3 linked regions of the Homo sapiens genome follow. Each later gene encodes a partner of the first gene's protein in a complex. Each region holds a gene or a part of one and is shown in the gene's direction. Other genes may lie near its edges.

Region 1 (7,000 bases):
CTTCTGTTTCAGAAATCAGTCAGGAGACGGCTGTGAATCCTGTGGACATTGTCAGCACTCTGCAAGCCCTTCAGATGCTCAAATACTGGAAGGGAAAACACCTAGTTTTAAAGAGACAGGTAAGGTTCTCATCAGGGGCTTGCTCATTGCTGGATGTCCTTCAAGACTTAGCAGAGCAAAGTATGGGCCTTAAGACTGGAGAACCTTCCCTTAAAGGAGTTGGGCTACACGCCCCTTTTACTGGGTCTCATTTCTGTAGCTGGCAGTGATGCCTGTGTTGCCTTATCCTTATCAGAAGGTTTTGATAAGCTCCTGTCTCAAATTTGGATGACACAAGTTAAGCAGCTCCAGTTAAGCAGCTTTATGTTGTACAGCATTTCTGTCATTTGATGTTTTTCTTAGGTGGGAGGAAATTGCCCATCTGTAGAGGAATCTTCACAAATGCTGTCTCAACTCAAACTCACATCTAATTTTTTAAATTATTTCATATATACAATAAAGGTCGGTGAGCGATGATTTTCATTTCTCACTGAGGGTAAAGTAGGAAGAATGGATTAGATAGGAAAGCAGTTTATAAGTCAAAATATAGTATTTTTTTTGATACCCTAATATGTTGTTAAACCTTTGGCAATTCCTTCTTGGCGGTTAGTTATTTTGGAATCTATGTAAAGGCACTTGAGTTGAAAGTATGTAATCCTTTTTCCCATTGTTCTCCCTCAGGACCTGATTGATGAGTGGATAGCCAAAGAGGCCAAAAGGTCCAACTCCAATAAAACCATGGATCCCAGCTGCTTAAAATGGACCCCTCCCAAGGGCACTTAAAGTGACCTGTCATTCCGAGCCAGCGAACCCCAGCAGTAGGAATCCGTACCCTAGGGATCTGTCTGTCATTTCTCTGTTGCTCTTGTGATTGGCAAGTACAGTATCCTTTGGGAAGGCCATCCCCCTCAGGACTGTCCTGGCTCCGACCTTTGTGTACACTGCAGACGCTGGTTCTGAGGAACTGTTGTTTCGGCCTCAGTGAGGTTGCCTGGATGGGATCTGTATTAGACTTGAGTGCAGGTCTCTCAGCACTGACCCAAGGAGTTCTGTTATGGTACTGTACCTGTCCAGTCACTGGTTCTCTCCTCATGTCCTCTCGCCCCATGAGGTTGTGTTGTGTCTTCTAAGCGTGGTACTAGTGCTTGCCACCTGGTCACCAGACCTCCAAATATGGCTGCCACCACCAGGACCTTTCCAGTTACTCCTTATATGTGTGTTCTATGGAGGGGCAGGGAAAAGGTGGCACTTGTGAGTGTGTGTGGATTGGCAGGGGGTCCATTCACTTTGGGTTCCATCTTGCTTTAAATTTCTTCATTTTGATTAAGAGACCTCTTTTTGATCTGTATTGGGCTAACCAGAGCCAAATACTTTTGAAGAGTTTCCCAGGGACTAGTCATGGTAATAGCATATAATTGATCTGAATGAGATGGAGAGAAGAATGAAGGGGTGGTGGTTCTGGGTTTGATTTGAGTTCACCTGTGGGCAGTGGGCAGTGGGCAGTGTCTTGGTGAAAGGGAACGGATACTACTTTTTGCCTCACCGTAAAGTACTCACTAGTAAATATTTCCTTCTCTCTTTACTCCCACTTTTTACGTTTGCAGGTGCCAAAGTAATGTCCACTTTTCCCTTTCATGCTGCATATTAACTGGTTAATTATACTGCAGAAACCTTTTCACCTCCACTAGTCTGATACAGTACATCTGTACTTCCATATACCTTGCACTGATTTTGTCTGAGTGCCCTGGGAGAAGTAGAAAATGATTGAAAGTGACTTCCGTATCTCAGCCCATGACTCAGCAAGGCAGAATGGCCACCCCTGCCAAAGTTTGCTTCTCTTTTCAACAGTGCCTCACCCTCCCTCTAGGATTAAAGTGCTTCTGCCCTTCCACGAACTCCTCCTCCATTTCCTTTTTGGGATTTGTCACCATCCTTCTATTCTCTGGTCTTCTATTTTTGGTGTTGTTCAAGTGAAGGAAGAGATGTTCCCTCTAATTTCTCTCTAGCCCATTATAACCTGCTATCTTGGGGCAACTTTTGATGTATGACATGTCACCCTTCCCAACTTGGTCTCCTCCAACATGCTGTCTTCATGTGGAGCCCTCACCACAATCCCTGACTCCGGTCATTTGTGCCTTTCTCTTGTCATCTCTGTACACTACTTATATTCACTGTGGGTTGGGGGAGCTAATTTTAAGCATGTTCAGTGGCAGCTCCCCTCCAGTTTCAGTGTCACTGTTAAAATTTATCAAAAAGCAACTTCACTAGGGGTTTTCTTAAGGGATAAAGGCCTTTTACAGAAGCTAAACCCTTCCCCACATGTGGTAGAATGTGCTCTTCTATATCTACTCCTCAATAAAGCATGTTCTCTGCTCAAGTCTGTTTCATCTGGGGGCTCTCATTTATATATGAAAATGATGCACACGATCTGCTACTAATAGTAAATGCACTTGGGATTTGCTTTCCCTAGCAGTAAACTGTTGAGGGATGTGGTTTGTGGCTATGGAATGTTTTTCCCTGTGATACAGGCTGTCTGTAAAGATCAAGGGAGTGCTCACTCTGAACTTCTCTAGATGGTGGCACAAATTTGATCTGCCTCACTTTGGTTCCAGCTAATCAGTATACGTAGCAATGATTAGTCAGTATTACCCATTCTTTCACTAAGTGCCATTTTCCACTGATTTTAGGGGCAAAGGAACCAATAGGAAATTAGGATATATGGGGGTACAGTTGATGCCTGTAGGAGATGGGAACAGACATTCCTTCTCATCTCCAAGCTCATTCACCAGTATTGAGCAGTGTCACCTCTAATTATTGACTCTCTCGCAGGTTGAAATTATTCTTTTTGAAAATAGCTGCATTTTCATGTAAGATATACCCAGCACAGGAAAAGGGTGGCTGAGCACTAACCTCCGTATGGTGGAAAGGAGGAGGCTGGGAATTGTATGTGCTGGAATGGTTTCACTCACTGTGACCAGTAGTGGTGAGAACCCATACAGTTGAAGTTTTTTGCACAGTCCTGATCCCAGGTCTCCACTCGCTTTGCCATCCCACTTTACTCCCTAAAAATAAAAGGATTTATTATCTCATTTAAACCCCCACAGGTGTGGAAACAGAGTTTCACTTGCCTTGGCAACTTTGCATGAGACTATCCCATTTCATTCCGTTTTTTTTTTTTTGAGTCAGAGTCTGGCTCTGTTGCCCAGGTTGGAGTGCAGTGGCGCAGTTTTGGCTCACAACCTCTGCCTCCCGGGTTCAAGTGATTCTTCTGTCTCAGCCTTCCGAATAGCTGGGATTACAGGTGCCTGTCACCATGCCCAGCTAATTTTTGTATTTTTAGTAGAGACAGGGTTTCGTCATGTTGGTCAGGCTGATCTCGAACTCCTGACCTCAGGTGATCCGCCCACCTTGGCCTCCCAAAGTGCTGGGATTACAGGCGTGAGCCACTGCACCCGACCTATTTTTTTTTTTTTTTTTTTTTTTTTTTTTAAAAAAAGACAGTCTCACTCTATCATCCAGTCCGGAATGCAGTGGCATGATCTCAGCTCACTGCAATGTCTGCCTCCTGGATTCCAGTGATTCTCCTGCCTCAGCCTCTCAAGTAGCTGGGATTACAGGTGCAGGCCACCTGGCTAATTTTTGTATGTTTAGTAGAGACAGGGTTTTGCCATGTTGGCCAGGCCAGTCTCAAACTCTTGACCTCAAGTGATCACCCGCCTCATCCTCCCAAAGTGCTGGGATTACAGCCGTGAGCCTCTGCACCCAGCTTTTAACTCCCTCTTATCTGCATAACAGAAGCTTAGCTGCTTAAGCTCCTTTATTAGAAGAGCAAAAGTCTGAAATTATTCCTGAAACCTGCTCAATGGAAGTACCTACTCTATTGGTTGCTTCCCATATGGTTGTCACTGTACCTTCATACTGCCTCATTTGACCCTCATATTAGCCCTGTACAGTAGATGGGTACACTGGTTTGCCAAAGGAGACCTGGAATCCAAGGTGGAAGTAAGCAGCAAAGCCAGAAACTTCAATTCTGGTCTGTCTACCTTGATAGCCTGCACCCTCCCCTCTACCGTTTTCTTCCACTATTTTTGATTCCTTAATGATGAATCATCCTCTCCCTTCTAGTTGGATTTGTTTCTAATGGCTTCCATTACAAGGATAATAATGAAACTGGTGAAAACTTTCAGGCAAAAGGATTTTCTTTTTATATTTTTTCTTATTATTTTTTAATTATTAACCAAATTAACTCATTACAGTAAAAAGGACTGATTTTTAAGCCAGCTGTGATAGCTCTGTAATAGTCTGTAATCTCAGCACTTTGGGAGGCCAAGGCGGGCAGATCGCTTGAGTCCAGGAATTCGAGACTAGCCTGGGCAGCATGGTGAAACCCCAGCTCTACAAAAAATAGAAAAATCAGACGTGGGCACATGCCTGTAGTCTCAGCTACTTGGGAGGCTGAGGCACGAGAATCGCCTGAACCTGGGAGGCAGAAGTTGCAATGAGCTGAGATGATGCCACTGCACTCCAGCCTGGGTGACAGAGTGAGACCCTGTCTCAAAAACAAAAAACAGAATTGATTGATGTTAGTTGGCTTTAGAAGCAGCAAGTTTAGGGGGCTACAGAGCTAAACCAGGAAGCAAAAGATGTGCCTCATTCTGGCATTGTTTCTGATTTAGGAATAAACTGTTCAGTAAGCACTGTCCCTTTACTTCCATGGTTTTCTTCATTCCTCACCACAGCACAGTAAGGTGGATATTATAGTCTTCTTCTAGATGAAAAATTGAGGCTCATAGTGGTCTTGCTGCTGTGTCATAGCAATAGAATGAGAGAGCCTTGCTTCCCTGAGTCCAAATCCCATACTTTTGGCATTGTTATGAGGTCTGGTCACCTGATGCTTCCATGCTATTTTCCCATTTCTTATCTGGGGATAATGAGTCATATTAAGTAATTTTTTTTTTTGAGACGGAGTTTCGTTCTGTCACCCAGGCTGGAGTGCAGTGGTGCGATCTTGGCTCACTGCAAGCTCTGCCTCCCGGGTTCATGCCATTCTTCTGCTTCAGTCTCCCGAGTAGCTGGGACTACAGGTGCCCACCACCACGCCCAGCTAATTTTTTGTATTTTTAGTAGAATGAGGTTTCACCGTGTTAGCCAGGATGATCTCGATCTCCTGACCTCGTGATCCACTCGCCTCAGCCTCCCAAAGTGCTGGGATTACAGGCGTGAGCCATTGCACCCAGCCATTTTTTTTTTTTTTAAGACGACGTCTCACTCTGTCACCTATGCTGGAGTGCAGTGGCGTGATCTAGGCTCATTGCAACCTCTGCCTCCCAGGTTCAAGCGATTTTCCTGCCTCAGCCTCCCAAGTAGCTGGGATTACAGGTGCCCACCACCTCGCCTGGCTAATTTTTGTATTTTTAGTAGAGATGAGGTTTTGCCCTGTTGGCTAGGTTGGTCTTGAACTCCTGACCTCAGGTGATCCACTCACCTCAGCCTCCCAAAGTGCTGGGATTACAGGCAGGAGCCACTGCGCCCAGCCAAGTAACTTTTAACAGTGTGGTATAACCTTTAAATGACAAGGTGATGCTTTTGACTTGTCCTCAACTTTGATTTGTACTGATTTGTCCCTATAGTTCTGGGTGGGGTGGGTCAAAACAAAGTCTCGAGCTGTACCAGGATCAAGCAGCACAGCTCAGCCATGATCCTTTTACCACTTTTTTCTTCTGTCCTTGAGACTCTAATTAAAGCACTGGATTTTTAAAAATCACCCTTGTAAATATGCACACATTTGTCTATAGTTGAGGAAATTGTGCCGTTGAAGTCCATTCTTGGACATGGAGTTAAGAAACCCTGGTTTGAGAAAAAGCCCCAGTGAGACAGCAGGAATCCTTTTACCATACAACCCTCAACTAGTTTAGTGTGCTCAAGCTCAAATAACCAATCCCATCAAGTGAAAAGAATGGCAGCAGGGAGAAGGCCTGGCTCACTGAGGCTCTCAGCATTAGTTTCCTCTACCTCTTGTGTCTCACAGGTGCACATATGTACAGCATATCAAAGTGTTGAATGTCATGAGAATAAAATATGAAAACTACTTTGCTGAATGATAGTATGTGATGTGTGCTAGGACTTCTAGAAGCCACCCTTTGCTTTGCTGTTCATTGGGATCATGGAATCGGACCTCAGCTGGTTTTGCCTCAGCACTTTCTTTCACAAAATTATGTGTGACTGCCTCCTCCAGACTGTTTCCTGCTGATAGGGGCAGTTTAATAGCCTTCTTCCTGTGTGGTATCTGCAACAAAATCCCAATGAATGTCACCAAGAAGGAAACAAAGGATTGCCCAGCGATGAGAAATGTCCCTGGTGCCAAAACATCAGTTTGCCCCTAACCTCTTGTGCAATACCTTTAAGTCCAGGTCATGTTGTTACCATTTGGGGGTTTGCGGATTTGTTTACTTGTGCCCAAGAATGGAGAAAATAACCTGTACTATTGTACAACTCTGGCTCCATGGCTCCTCACAAATGTTCCATGTGAGATATAAACATCTTTATCCTCGACAAGTCATGTTCATTCCAAGAAACCAGTCTTTGTTCTTAATTGGACATTTGTTTCTGCAAACAGCTTACCATACATTCAATTCCAAAGTTATCAGAAACCTACACTCTTATCTCACAAATTTAGAGGTGTGGTAGATCATCTCCAAAGATGGCCACCAACAGTTGCTCTCATCCTCTGTGCACGTGCTATTTCCAATAAGGTCTATTTTTTTCTACAGTGAGGGCTGAACTTGTGACTTGTTTTGACTAATAGGATATGGAAGTGATATTTTGGCAGCTTCCACTTTTGCTCTTGAAAATAAGCTGACACGTTTCCAAACGAGAAGCTTGGGCTAAATTACTGAATGGTGAGAGACGATGCATAGGAGAACCAAGGTGCTCTAGTCACAGCACTAAAAGCCCAGACTTG
Region 2 (7,031 bases), on another chromosome or scaffold:
GTGACACCTGTCTGGCACTCTCCTAACATGGGGACACTTTAATGGCTCACAAGTTTCTGTTGTTCCAGTTACAGTGGCTGGGAAAGCTGAAACATTCTGGTTTGTATGGTGGGGAGGATCTAGGGTGAATGGGTAAAAGTGATGAACAAATAAACGGGTACTAGCAAGTAAGTGGTCATTACAAACCAAATAACTACCACTTTGAGTTTTCTGATTTCTGGAATCTTTATGACTCCCTCATGGTTATTTTTGCCTTGTTCCTGTAGGTCTTTCCATAGATAATAACAACAAAATTCTTACCATTAGAACTGCCTCTGTGCTTTTCTTGGGAGAAAGTAAAAAAAAAAAAAGGGTCCTGGGAAAAACTTGCCCGATTTCATAGCTAGGCTTGTGAAAAGGAAGGTGATAAGTCAGAAGACAGCCGACTGAATAAAGGACCTGGTGTGAGGAAATAGTACTGGGGCTTTGACCAATAGGAAACACCTATGAGTTCATCAATGCTTTTCAAGCAGCAAATAATTTAATCTTTGCCAAAACCCAGGAACTATGGCTGTGCCCTGCTACCCAAGGAGCTCCTTTTCCCTTGGTATTGGCTGATGGGCAAGGAAACCCAAGCCTAGAATGTGTTTTTTTGTTTTGTTTTGTTTTGTTTTGTTTTGAGACACATGACAAGAATATATGATACCAGCATGGCCAATACACTAGACTTTGTGTGTTGGAATCTTCTGGGACACATTCTTTTTTAAATTTTAAAAACTTATTTTGATAATTACAAACTGTTATAAGAATAGTACAAAGAACTCACTATATTCCCAATTAGTAACGGTTTGCTCTCATTTGCTTTATCACTTGCTCTTTTAGTTCTCTTTCCAAACCATTTGTTAGTAATCACTGAAATTTATTATTTGTTGTTTCTTTCAAGCCATTTGTTAGTAATCACTGAGAGATTGGTACTTATCAAGGGCATCCTGTCCTGAACAGTGGCTCAGTTGCAGCCACTGGGTATAGCAGAACAGTGGTGGTGAGGCAGGGTCCAGAGGTAGAGCAAAGTCTACCTACAGCTGTGAAGCACACAGTTTGTAAACCGTGTAGAATCTCTAGGGCTAGATATAGAAATCATTATCGATTGTAAAAGTGGTTAAGATAAACTCCACTTTTCTCACCATTCTTGTCAAGTTTGTTCTTAACTATGCCAAACTTTAATACTGTTAATGAAAATTCACTCCACTCCCCAACTTTGCAACAATAATATATTCTCCAAGATTTTCATTTAATTCATTCAGCAAACATGTATTAAATACCTTCTGTTTGCTAGGGGTATAAGAGGTGAAAGATACCCCCTTAACAGCTCAACTTCCAGTGGAAAGGAATTAAGTCATCTTCTCACAGTCAGGAGGAAGAGTGCTCTGCTGAAGGGGTTCACAGGGAGTGATGGGAGCACCATCCTGGTTAAGGATCTGAGAAGTAGATCTCTGGGAGTCATTTGGGATGGGTGTAACTATGAAGATCTGTCTTCTCTGAGGCCTGCTCTTAGATGACAAGGTTCATGAGTTAGAGAAGCCTTTGGTGTCATATACCCAGCACAGGCTGTGAGGTCAGGCCAACTTGGATTCAAATCCTAACTCTACCACTTGCTCTTGGCCAGTTATTTAACTTCTCTGTGCCTCAATTTCTTTGTCAAACCATATCTCTGAGGGTGGTAGTGAGAATTGATCAATGCTCTGTAAACATTCATTTCATCTTACTCTACAAAAATGCAATGTATGGGGAAATTGCCTGAAAAGTAATAGGTATTAAGGTGGGATCCAAGCTGGTGGGGGCGGGTGGGGGTGGCTCGGTGTGTTTCTATTTTTTCAACAAATAAATATCTAATTGCACTAAGAGCTATGATGGACATTACCATATAGGATAATAACAATAACAGCAGCAATGATTTCTTAAACATTTCCTGTGTCCCGAGTACTGTGCTAAGTGCTTAACTAACAGAGGATCTCTCTCTCTGAGGTGTGAGACTCAGAAAGGTGAAGCAAAGGTAACTTGCCCAAGGTCACGCAGCAAGTATAAGGTAGAATGTCCCTGTGAGGGAGACCAGCATGGTGCCCTGAGCCTTGAGAATGAGCAGGAATAAGCAAGGTAAGGGTTAGAGAGAAGGGATTGCCAGGCAGGGGTAGCAGCAGGTGTTGTGAGGGCACTGAGGTGGAAGAGAGATGTGGAAAGGATCCACAGAGGTTTGGCTAGGACTTGGGGTAAGAGAGATGAGGTGGGCAGGGAAAGATTGACAGGGCCTTACGGGACCTCATTAAAGAGCTTGTGTTTTATTCCAAGTACAATGAGAGGTGTTTCTTTCTCTCTCTCTCTCTCTCTCTAATGGGAGGTCTGTCTCTCTCTCTCTCTCTCTCTCACTCTCTCTCATCCTCTCTCTCTCTCTCTCTCTCATCCTCTCTCTCTCTCTCTCTCTCTCTCTCATCCTCTCTCTCTCTCATCCTCTCTCATCCTCTCTCATCCAGGGAAGCATATAGTGAGGCCTAAACAAAAATGGTTTAAGAAAGTCATTTCCCCTTCAGTGTCCCACCTTGCAATCCAATAGAGGCAATGTCTCTGGACCAAATGTGTAGGTCTTAAACAGTTTTTATCGACTGCCATTAACATGGCTAAAAAGAGTTTCTATGATGCTGGAAGAAGCTGGTCCTTCAGAATGCTTCTAGAAGGAGGTTTAATTAGGCTCATATAGCTGATGCTTTTTAGGCTGCATTAAGGGAGCTCTTTCAGCTCTCACTGATCCCTGTCACATGGGGAAAAAGTAGAATTGAGAGAAAACATAATTCCTGGAAACCTGAGTTGTTGTTCAGTGTTAGAAATGGAACTATCGAGTATAAGACTTTGGTTTAAATATATCATGATAAAGATACTTCAGTGACTAAATGGAAATTTTTTTATGTTTTTTGTTTTTTGCATGTGTGTGCCATCTGTGATGGCAGACAGCACATTTGTTAGAATCTGGGAAGACTTAAGTATTTTTTCAATACTTATATATTTATATTTATTCTCATCCAGGTACTAGAAGTTTTTCTGTTTGAAACTATTTCTTATCTACAGAGTAAACTTCACAGGAGGAAAACCAGTGTTCTGTTCCCCTTCCCATAAGTACTAGGCCACAAACATATTTACTTTTAAGTAGCCTGTGTCAATTAGCTTTTTGGGGGAGGGTGGTTAGCTGGTGGCTAGATGATCTGGGATAGCCTTACTCACACATCTGGTGGTTGGCAGGCTGGTTGGTCTAGGAGGCCCTAAGCCGGGATGGTTCATCTCCATTCTATGTGGTCTGCCCTCCAGCTGGCTAGTCTGGACTTACTAACATGGTGGTCTTGAAGTCACAGAGTAGCAAGTGAGAGCAAGCACCAGTGCACAAGCACTTTTCAAATGTTTGCTGTGTCACATTTGCTATTGTCCCATAAGCTAAAGCATGGAAGTGCTTCTGTGGCCAAGCCCAGAGTCATTGTGGGTGGTGACCATTCAAAGGTGTGGATACAGGGAGATGTGAAAAAATTGGGGGCCATTACTGCAATAATTCATAATAATTAGCAATGAATGTAAGCTGTTAAGCTTTGATAAATCTTGTTAAACACCCATTTCTGAATGTAGTGTATTCTAGAGACTAAATAATGTGATTGTGCCATTGGTAACACCTCTTCCACCAAGTGTGGAATGGAGTGATGGTTTTTCTGGGAAGAAGCCAAAGGCAGACAGTGTGGTTTTGGACATAGATATTCTTGTGAGTGGCTTAACTGCTTTCTGATCTTGTGTGGCTATTATCAAAGGAGTCTCTAGATTTCCTCAACCTTCCATTCAAGCATTATCACGAAAACCCTAGTGTATTAGACTCTACTAGATTTTGTGGTCAAGCCAAAAGACCGTTATTTGGGAACCACCACCACTTAAGAGATGAAAGAAACATTTGCAGTCTTTCCTTGGAACCTTTATATGATTTATAATTTGTACCTAAGAGAGGAAATCCGTATTTGAGCATTGGTAATAAGGACAAGGGATTCTCTGTAAATGTGTTTTAATTGGTTAAGATTTAAAAATCTTCCTGTGGTTGCAGTGAAAAATCCAGCATTGTACTGTGAAGTGAGTGGCCAGGAATTACCAATTTGGGGCATCAGCCTTTGACCTTTGCTTGTGAAGATCTCAGAAGTAACACTTTCCACATAACTGAAATAGGCTTCACAACAGCTTGTGGCCTGAAATATATTACATGAAAATGCAACTGGACCCCAGGAAGTATGTGTGGGAAACTATACAAGGCTCATTTTGTATGTCTTAGAGATGTACATTCCCCCAGAAAATTGCCTGGTGGTAGAATGTTAGCTTTTCTTCTTTCCTCCTAGGATAAAAATTAAAAATCTCTGACATTTTAAAAGTCAGTGACTTGAAAGAGCAATCAAAATTTATAAACACACACATCATTAGACCCCACAAACACTTCCAGGAATTTATTCAACAAATATTTGCATATTAATTGGAGTATTGCTTGTAGTAGCAAAAGATTGGTAATATCCTAAGGGTCAATCAAGAATATTGAAGACACTGATAGTTTTGGAACACGCATGACCAAGCAGGTAGAGGGTGAGAGGGAGACTTTTCACTACATAAACTTTTACGTATGTGTTTTGAATTTTAAGCAATGTGAATATATTTTCTTATTTTAAAAGTTAAATACATTTTTTAAAGAGATGATATATAGTGATGCAAAATTCCATAGACTCCTATCCGAGTTGACCTGATCAGAGCTATTCCTGTTCAAAAAAAATCTAGCCAGTTTTTCCCCCTAGAAATGCCTCACGATAGTGTACTTCTGAATTTTTAACTATAATTCTGCCTTTTCCAGAATATCACATGAGTGGAATCATGCAATATGTAGCCTTTTTTTGGTCTTGCTTTTAGTGGATTCATCCATATTATGTGAATGAATAGCCTGTTCCTTTTCATTACTGAATACTATTCCATTGTATGGATGTACCACAGTTTGTTCATTCACCTGTCGAAGGACGACTTAGTTGTTACCAGTTTTTTGGTGGTTTTCAATAGAGCTGTGGTAAACATTAGTGTACAGATCTCTGTGTGGACATAAGTTTGCAGTTTATTGGGGTAAATACGTAGGAATGGGATTAGTGGATTTTTCTTTGACAGAAATTACCAAACTATGTTCCAAAGTGGTTCTACCATTTTATATTCTCCTGCCATGAATGTGATTCCACGTATGGATGTCTAGTTGTCCCAGCACCACTTGTTGAAAAGACTACCCTTTCTCCATTGAATTGCCTTTGCATATGTGTCAAAAATCAGTTGACTATCCTTCTGTGGATCTATTTCTGGGCTCTCTGTTGCATTGATCTATATATCTATCATTTCTCCATTAACACACAGTCTTGATTATTATAGCTTTATAATAAGCCTAGAAATCAGGTAATAGAGTACTCTGGCTTTTTAAAATCTTTCTCTCAGGGTATGCTTAAGTTACTTTTTAAAAAAATTTTTTTATAGAAACAGGGTCTCACTGTATTGGCCAGGCTAGTCTCAAACTCTTGGTCTTAAGCAGTCTTCCCACTTTGGCTTCCCAAAGTGCTGAGATTACAGGCATGAGCCACCACGTCTGGCTTTTTTTGCTTTTTAAGAGACAGGGTCTTGCTCTGTCACCTAGGCTAGAGTGCAGTGGCCCCATCATAGCTCACTGCAGCCTTGAACTCCTGGGCTCAAGTGATCCTCCTGCCTCAGCGTCTTGAGTAGATGGGGCTATGGGCACATGCCACTATGCCCACCTATTTTTAAATATTTTTTGTGCAGAGATAAGGTCTTGCTATGTTCCCCGGGCTGGTCTTGAACTCCTGCCTCAAGTGATCCTCCTGCTTTGGCTTCCCAAAGTGTTGGAATTACAGGCGTCAGCCACTGCACCTGGCCTGGCTTTTTTCTTCTTTTTCAGAGTTGTAGTGGTGAGAGAGGACATCCTTAACTTGTTCCAATCTTGGAAAGCATTCCATCTCTCACCATCAAGTATGATGTTGTAGGATTTTTTTTTAATATACTGTGTTGTGCAGAAAAGAGTTAACATAGCAGACCTGAGGCTGCTGTCTTTAGAAGGCCAACGTGCACGATTGGCCCTTAGCTGGTGTTTGGGAAATTGGCTTTTCAAATGTTTAAAAAGAAAAGATTATATTCTACCTTCATTTATTCCTTTTCCAATGCTTTTCATTTCTTTATGGTAATCCAGGTTTCCTACCTTGATCACAGTCTTTCTGCTTAAAGAATCCCCTTTAACCTATCTTTTGAGGGCAGATCTGCTGGCAGTAAATTCTCTGTTTTTGGTTGTCTGAGAAAGTTTTCATTTTCCTTCACTTTTGAAAGGACACTTTTGTGGGTTGACAGTTGTTTTTCCTCTTTCAACATAGTACTCCACCATTGCCTGGCTTACGTGATTTCTGATGAGAAGGCTGCTGTAATCCTTTTTTTTTTTTTTAATACCTTAAGTTCTGGGATACATGTACAGAATGTGCAGGTCTGCCACATAGGTATATATGTGTCATGGTGGCCCGCTGCACCCATCAACCCGTCACCCACTTCAGGCACCTCTCCCAATGCTATCCCTCCCCCAGTCCCCCATCCCCCAACAGACTCCAGTGTGTGATGCTCCCCTCCCTGCGTCGATATGTTCCCATTGTTCGACTCTCCCACCCATGAATGAGAACATGTGGTGTTTGGCTGTCTGTTCCCGCGTTAGTTTGAGGCTGCTTTAATTCTTATCCTTGTTCCTCCATAGTTAATGTGTCTTTTTTCCTCTGACTACTTTGAAGATTTTCTTTTTGTCTTTGGTTTTCAGCAGCTTGAATATGATATGCCTAATTGTGGCTTTTAAAATTTTTTCATTTTTGTCCTGCTTTGTGTTCTCTAAACTTTATTATATCTGTGGTTTGTTGCCTGTCACTAATTTTGGAAAGTTTCTCAGCCATTATTTCTTCAAATAATTCTATCTTGTT
Region 3 (7,360 bases), on another chromosome or scaffold:
ACAATGACCTAAAAGGCCCTATATAATCTCTTTCATTTACATATTAAGCATATTCCTGCCTCGGAGGCATTGCACTTGCTGGTCTCTTGAGACCTTGGTTCTTAACCTTTTTTGTGCATGTGCCATGGACTGTTTTGGCAGTCTGTGACACCTGTGGACTCCTTCTGAGTATAGTATCTTTAAATCCATAAAATAAGTTCCACAAATCATTAAGAAAACAAATTGTACTGAAATACAACTCTCGAAATATTTAAACATATATATGTGCTTCTCTATTAATTCATTAAATTATAAGAGTTAGCAGCATGATTTTGAAGTAGTGATGAGTAAAATGATACTTTTTCAATAAATTACTCATAAAGTGTAACGATATTTTAAGATATTTGCAACAACTCTAAAGTGATATGAAAATATCTGTGATTTCTACCAGCAGTAATGTCACAGGTGCTGCTAATATCACTGATTTGTTATCTGTATTCATAATTGAAGGACACGCTACATTTTAATTAGTGAAAATAAAGTTGTAATTTTTTTCTCACCTAAGGTCAAGATCCTCTGAATTCTATCCACAGACCCATGGAGAGGAGAGTCTATGGTCTCCAGGTTAAGAACGGCTGGCTTCTCTTCCCCCATGTACATACACACATACTCCCACATACAGTTCACTCCTTTACCTGCTCTTCTCAAAGACTGTCTTCTCGGTGAGAACTTCCCTATTTTATTTAAAATTGCACTCCCACACTGTGTATCGCCCTTTCCTTCTTAAGAGTTTCTCCACAGCACTTAATCACTTTCAAACATATAGTTATTTTTATATTTTAGAGTTTAGAATAAAATCATGTCCAATTTTAATAACCTGCTCACTCTAGCAGCTAACATTTTTACCTTTTTTTTTTTTTTAAGTTCTGGGATACATGTGCAGGATGTGCAGTTTTGTTACACAGGTAAACATGTGCCATGGCGGTTTGTTGCACAGATCATCCCATCACGTAGGTATTAAGCCCAGCATGCATTAGCTATTTTTCCTGATGCTCTCCCTGCCCTGCTCCTCATTTATTTTATTTATTTACTTATTTGTGTGTGTGTGTGTGTGTGTGCTGTGTCCCCAACACCAAGAATGGTCTCTGGCATACGGGAGGCTTGTTGAAAAACAATGAAGGATTACATCTCCAAGAACTCTCTTTCTTCTCATTTCTTTCCTGTAAAAAGTTAATGAATGATTACGTCCAAAGCAGAGATTGTGGAAAAAGGAAAAAAAAAAAAGTTAATGAATGATTTGTGAGACTTTTAATAAAGATTAAGGAGTTACAATTAGCTTTATCGTTATCATTCTGTTAAAGCTTCCAAGGTTAACCTTAAACAGCAGCAGAGAACTGTGGGAATCCAAGGATTTTGATAGGGCTTCCAGTCCTAAGCAAGAGGTATTTTCAAGGGCTCATTAGAAGGCCTGGGTCTCACCCCAAGTCAGGGAACCACCTCAGAAGCAAAGTGCTGCTCATAAAATTCTTTCTTGCCAAGACAGCAATCAGATCCCCCCATCCCCAATCAAACCAATAATAGTAATACTTTTTATTTCTGGCAGTGTGGTAAAATAGAAACTACATAGGTCTCAAGGTCAGCTAGACCTAGGAGCCAATTCTGCCAGCACTTACTAGCTGTGTGGCTGTGGTAAGTTACTAAACCTTTCTGAAAAGGGAGGAAGGGGTTTGGGGGAGGATGAGATAGAATGGCTCACAAAGTGACCAGTACACTGCAGGTGCACTTTAAATGGTCACACTTCCCTCATCCATCTCTGGAGGTCATCTCTTTAGACTGTGCCACTGTAAACTGGTACCCTCACTCCCACCCCGGAATGGACATCTGGACCTTGACCATCAAGCTTCAGAGAACAATTTCACCCTTCCAAAATAAAAAAAACCCACTTAGGTACCAGGCAAGGTGCTAATGAGCACTATGCACCCTGTGCCAGTTGCTGCTTTACACATACCACCTGTATATGTACGTACATACATATATGTGTATGTGCACACATGGCCTCAAGAACCCTCCAACCACCCCATTCTACCCAAAAGGAAAAAGCGATCCAGGGAGATGAATTCACTTGCCCACATCACACAGCTTCTGAAATGCAAAGCCAGGATTAGAACCTAAGTATTTAACTATTTTGTTACACACTCCAAGTCTGCAGCACCTGTTTCCAGACTCTGAGCTTGGCTAGAGAAAAATACCACCAATTGACCACTGAGAGCCACAGCCAGGTCTAACTGGAAGGTAATACCCAGACCATCCTCTTGCCAGACAATTCTCCTCAGACTTTGTGAATGAAGGCCAAGGAAGAAGAAATGTTGCAGTGACTCCCTTTGAGCTCATATTTCTTTCTTGTTGCAAAAACTGCTTATTTCAGCATTCATCATCTCCCTCTTTGTTGGGTAGACAATCCGCCCTGTCGGAGGATTTGTGCTGTTATTATGAGTTTGTTTATTATTAGATTTATTTCTCCTATAAGCAAATGTGTTCACAACATTCCATCGGGGAATCTTCTTAATTGTCACATAAATGTCATCTTATGTAAATTGAATATTTATCTTCCCATGGAAGGGGGTGGAGGGGAAAGGAAGAATAAACAATCTTCAGTCTTGGAGAGGGAAGGCGACTCCGGTGTCCATTCACAACTCACCCACGTGCCTTCAAAGCCAAAGGTGAGCTGAAAAATTATTGGATAATCTGAGGGGCAGCCGACCATGAGGGGGAAGAAAAAGTTGGCCACGATGCTTTGGGGATGTTGGGCCAGGCTCCCCACAACCTCCTCCCGAGGCCAGACCCACCCCCTCCCCAGCTAGAGGCATTCCGAGGAGGTTGGAGCTTGACCCCCGATTCCTCCCCAACCAGGAGGCCAGTCCTTCTCCTTCCTCGAGAGAAGGTGAGCTCGGCGGGCGCAGCGGGTTGGGTGGGTGTGGCCCGCGGCTCCGGGAACAGACCCAAGGCCCCGCCACCGCCGGCTAGCAGCCCGACAGCCCGCCCGCCTGGCGAGCGCAGGCTCTTCTTCCAGAAACTGCGAGGATCCGAGCGTACTGTTTGTGCACCACAAGGTCAAGTCGGGAAGTGGAGCCGGAGGAGGAGGGGCGAGGAGGCGAAGGGTGGGGAGAGGGGCGCCCCGCTTCCTCGCCATGTGCCAGCCTTTGGAAGTTACCCCTCGGTTTTTAACCCTTTCGGGGTAATGGGAAGGAAGAGCAAGGAGGAAGGGGTCGCCCCGGGGCAAAATCCTGCTGGGGCCAGGATGTGCAACCACCCACCCACCCGCTCATCACTGCCTTCTCCACCCCCCGGAAATGCGGGGCAGCGCTAGGCGCCAGGAGGCACCCGGGAGGGGGGAGGGGGCGACGAGCCCAATGGGGACCCTCTCTACGGACCGCCCCTCTTTTCTTGAGGTCGCCTACAATTTCAAGTTCCCCCGCCCGGAATGTTAGTTTTCCATTTGGAGTGGGTGCGGGGAGGAGGGCCGCGCCCCCTCCCCAAGACTCGCGTTCGCCCCTCCACTCCCCTCCTGCCAGCACTTTCTGCTCACTTCTGGTGCTGCAAAACGCCACGCAATTTATTCGATTCGCATTTTAAAACCAGCGATTCAGAAGCAGGGCCTAGGGCGAGGGTCTTCCAGCGCTGGAGCCCCGGGGGGCGGGGTGCTCAGTGCAAACCTCGTTCCCTCCGCGAGTGTCGCCTCCAGGCTGTTATTTGCAAAGAAACGTCTTTTTGACGCAGGGAGAAATGGCAAATTTTAAGTACGTCATTAATATGGCGCCAAAAGATTTTTTTAAGTATAAGCTCGCTTTTTTTTTTTTTTAAGGTTGCGGGGGGCGCCGCCCGGGTCTGGGGCGCGTAGGGGGCGGGGTGTGAGCAGAAAGTGTGAGTGAAAGAGTGGAGGGGCGGGGTATGTGTGTGAGTGTGTGAAGTGTGAGCAGACCTGATGGGACTTGCACGGGCGCAGCCGCCGCTCGGGCCCGGCCCTGGGGACAGGGCGGGCTAGGGGCGCCCCAGAGTCCATGGGGAGTCCGGGCCCAGGGTGCCAGCAGGCGTGGTGGTGGGGCTGCGAGGGAGGGCACCCTTCCCCCACGGGGCCCGCAACGCTACCTGGACTCCCCGCCGGAGCCAAACAACTGGGCGGGGGGTTGGGGGGGCGGCGACGGGGGTGTCGGGAGCGGAGATCCGAGTGAATAAGAAAAAAGTGGCTACTCCCCCTCCCTCGCTCCTCCTGCCCGCCCCCACCCCACCCCCACCCCAACACATTTTTTTTTTCTAAAGAGATCACAAGGAAGTCTTGGTTTAAAAAGAAACAGAAACATACACAGGGGGTTGGTGAATGGTGCCGACCGCGGCCATCGCAGTTGGAGGCTATTTTTTGGGGGGGGTGAGTAGCGTCCATGGAGTTACTTTGCGCCCACTCCTAGCGGCACCGGCTTAGGTCCTGCGGGCCGACCGTCCCCGGCGGGGGGCGTGGGGCCTGGGACGCCGCGGGCCCGGCCGCCTCCCTCGCCGCGACCCCGGATGGATGCGCGCCCCCCGCCCTCCCGCGCCGGCCCCAGGAGCTCCCGGCTTCGGGAGCATCCTTCCCGCGCCGGTCCCTGCAGCGGCGCGTAGCCGAGGGCAGCGCCCGTCAGGGGGGCACCGCGGAGCAAGGTAAGATCCAGCCCCCGGCGGATGGGCCCTGCGCATCTCCACGACGTTATTTGGCGTTTTTGCAACAGATCTGCCAGCGCTCTTCGCTCCCTCGCTCTCTCTTGCTCGCTCGCTCCCTCTCTCTCCTGCTGGCTGCCTGTTCTAGGAAGCCAGCGCGGAGAGGGGGGGGATGCACAGCACAGGGGAGAGAGATTGCGCATGTTGGTCAGTCGTGTTTTAAAGAGTACAGTGCGGGGAGGCTGAGAGGGGCGCATGCAACAACAACTTTTGGAAGGGTGAGCTTGGCGACCTTCTTTATTAATGACTGCGGCAAAGCGCCCCCGGGCCGGCGAGGGGGCGCGGGCGGGCGGGGGCGCGCCAGGGCTGCAACTTCCCCGCGGGCTCCGGCCGGGCGTAGGGGCTGCGGCGGGAGATGGGTACGGTGGGGAGGTCGAGCGGCCCGGGCGGGGGCTCCGAGAACCTGGAGCTATCTGCCCTCCTGTCTCCCCGAGTTTCATTTTGTTGATACGCAGCACGTCCGGGCGCCGAACCGGGCTGAGCCGGTGCACATGACCTCGCGCTGGGCTCACGTGCAGCCGGTCCGGTCCCAGACACCTTCCGGGGGCCACCGCCTCCGCCCTGTCGCCCCCTCTCCCGGCCCGGTGCACGCGGGCGCTGCACGCGGGGGCAGCATGCTCGGCTCCTGGGGTTGGAGGCTCTGCACAAATTAGACAGTTTTTTTGGAGGGGCGGGGGACACCCTTTCCAGGTGAGTGTGGAGGGTGCGGAGCCTCGGCGCCAGGGGTGAGGACTGGGGTCGGGGGCAGCCTCCACCTCCGGGGCCGCGCGGTAGTCCAGCTGGGGAGAGGCGCTGGGAGAGTGGAAATGTACCGGCGGCGGCCGGAGCGGCGGGTGCGCGCCCGCGGGGCGACGGCAGGGGGCGTGGCCCTTGTTTACCTTCTCCCAACTCTGCCGGTTCGCGTCCCGCTTCAGGGACGGATCCGCAGTCCCCAGCCCTCTGCCTAGGGCCCTGCACCATGGGTGGTACCAGGAAGATGCCGGCTTGTGGCGGACCCCGTTTGGGACGCACACACCTGACTCTCAAATGAGTGACATTGCAGCCCCCGCCCCCACCTAGCGCTGCTGCAGTCCCTTTGCCGGATCCCCGGCCCCGCCCCGCCCCCGGCAGTGGCATCTTCCCGGCCTCACCTCCTTCCTCCCTCTCCCTCCCTTCTTCCCACCCACTCGCCTGCGCCTGCGGAGCGGCGCCCGCCCGCCTCCTCCCCGCCTGGGTGCAGACTTGTGGCTCCCCATGGTTTCTTCCCGCCCATCCCTGGGTCCTGAGACATCCTCTCCTCTCGGCCAAGGGACGAGAGGGGTCAACTTGGCGATTCGCAGCTGTTCTGCCAGAGGATGGGGTTGCCTGCGAGACAGCCAGGAAGGCTTCACTCTAGCTTCCAGAGGCCCAGCCCTGTCCCCTACTACACACAGCTACCACCCCACCCGCCCCTGGGGCTCGGCTGCCCTTCCCGGTGTCTCTTAAACCCCTCCCCCGACCTGGGTGTTAAGCCCACCCACCTCCCGGCGCCGCCCCCGGTCGAACAGCCTCTTGCCCTTCCTTCGCCTGGGCCGGAGCCCCCCGCAGCCTCCTCCGGCTCCTCCTCCCGGCTCCGGCGGTCGGAATCACGCCGGCGCGCCTCCAGCCTGCGGTCCCGCGGACTGCCTCCAGGGGCGGGCTGGAGGCGCGCGCAACTCCCCTCCCAATCCCCTCAGCCACTGCCGCTGGCCTGGGCACTTTTTTACCAGCTTGGCTGCTGGCCTCTTGCTGGAGGCTGGGGGAGGTGAAGGGTCACTGGGTGTCTTTGCCGTATGCCGAAGGCACACTGCGGCCGGCGATTCTGGTCTCTGCAGATTTCCAAACCTCGCCGCTGCGTCTAGCACCCCTGGGTCATCTTCTGCAGGATCCCGAGGCACAAAGTTGTATCCCGGGTCAGAGTTTGTAGGGGGTCATCGAGAGGTGTCATGTTTCCATTCAGAGCGGTTCCAAAGCGTCTAGGAAGGGGCTGAGTGGGACCTGCTGCCTTGCCTTTGTTGGAAGGAGGACCCCTGAGCTCTGATCCCAGACAGGCTGTCAGGACGCCCCCTTAGCATTTATGTTTGCAAACTGATTCCTGGACCTGGGAGGTGGTAGGGCCGCCTGGCCCCTCCTCTCGGAGTGGCATTAACTCCCTCCCTTCACTGGTAAAATTCCCAGTAGGACATTTGGCAAAAGGGCTCGGCATGGAGCTGCCAACCGGGCCTGGCTTTGTTTCCTGGGTTCCCAGGGCTTCTCCCCTACCCTGACTTTCTTTCTCACCTTAGGGCCCCAGATGAACGCACCGTCCGTCTTGTCCCATCTTCCTTAGACGGGCTGGGACTCGCAGAGCCATCTAACAAGCAGAGGAGGAAAATAACAACAGAATAACTATAAGGGGGAAGGAATGAGTAATAAAGCTGACCCAGGCAGGGAGGAGGGCTTTCATGTTTAAGAGATGCTATTTGCTTTTTGGGTCACAGGCTGCAAAAACAGGCTTTGATCCGAAGTGGGCGAATAATTTATTGAGCAAGTTTGCATGGTAGAGGAAGGGATGTTTGTTTGATCTGGAGCCCTCTAGGTTGCCCCAAGTGCTGTTGGCTGTTGTTTTGAGTGGAAAAGCATTTGGTTCTGCAGC

Evidence for each region. The genes of interacting proteins can lie anywhere in the genome.
Region 2: KAT7 (region 1) and JADE3 share a complex: the UniProt entries of both Homo sapiens proteins name them as parts of the HBO1 complex.
Region 3: KAT7 (region 1) and JADE2 share a complex: the UniProt entries of both Homo sapiens proteins name them as parts of the HBO1 complex.

The regions. Positions count from the first base shown.
Region 1 is NC_000017.11:49,826,681-49,833,680, forward strand, and holds part of KAT7 (histone acetyltransferase KAT7), read left to right. Parts: intron 1-12; coding exon 13-119; intron 120-720; coding exon 721-822; 3' UTR 823-7,000. UniProt on the Homo sapiens protein: Catalytic subunit of histone acetyltransferase HBO1 complexes, which specifically mediate acetylation of histone H3 at 'Lys-14' (H3K14ac), thereby regulating various processes, such as gene transcription, protein ubiquitination, immune regulation, stem cell pluripotent and self-renewal maintenance and embryonic development.
Region 2 is NC_000023.11:46,915,421-46,922,451, forward strand, and holds part of JADE3 (protein Jade-3), read left to right. Parts: intron 1-7,031. UniProt on the Homo sapiens protein: Scaffold subunit of some HBO1 complexes, which have a histone H4 acetyltransferase activity.
Region 3 is NC_000005.10:134,521,341-134,528,700, forward strand, and holds the start of JADE2 (E3 ubiquitin-protein ligase Jade-2), read left to right. Parts: upstream 1-4,329; 5' UTR 4,330-4,354; coding exon of another isoform or gene 4,355-4,402; 5' UTR 4,403-4,671; intron 4,672-4,767; exon of another isoform or gene 4,768-4,946; intron 4,947-5,291; exon of another isoform or gene 5,292-5,418; intron 5,419-7,360. UniProt on the Homo sapiens protein: Scaffold subunit of some HBO1 complexes, which have a histone H4 acetyltransferase activity. Acts as an E3 ubiquitin-protein ligase mediating the ubiquitination and subsequent proteasomal degradation of target protein histone demethylase KDM1A.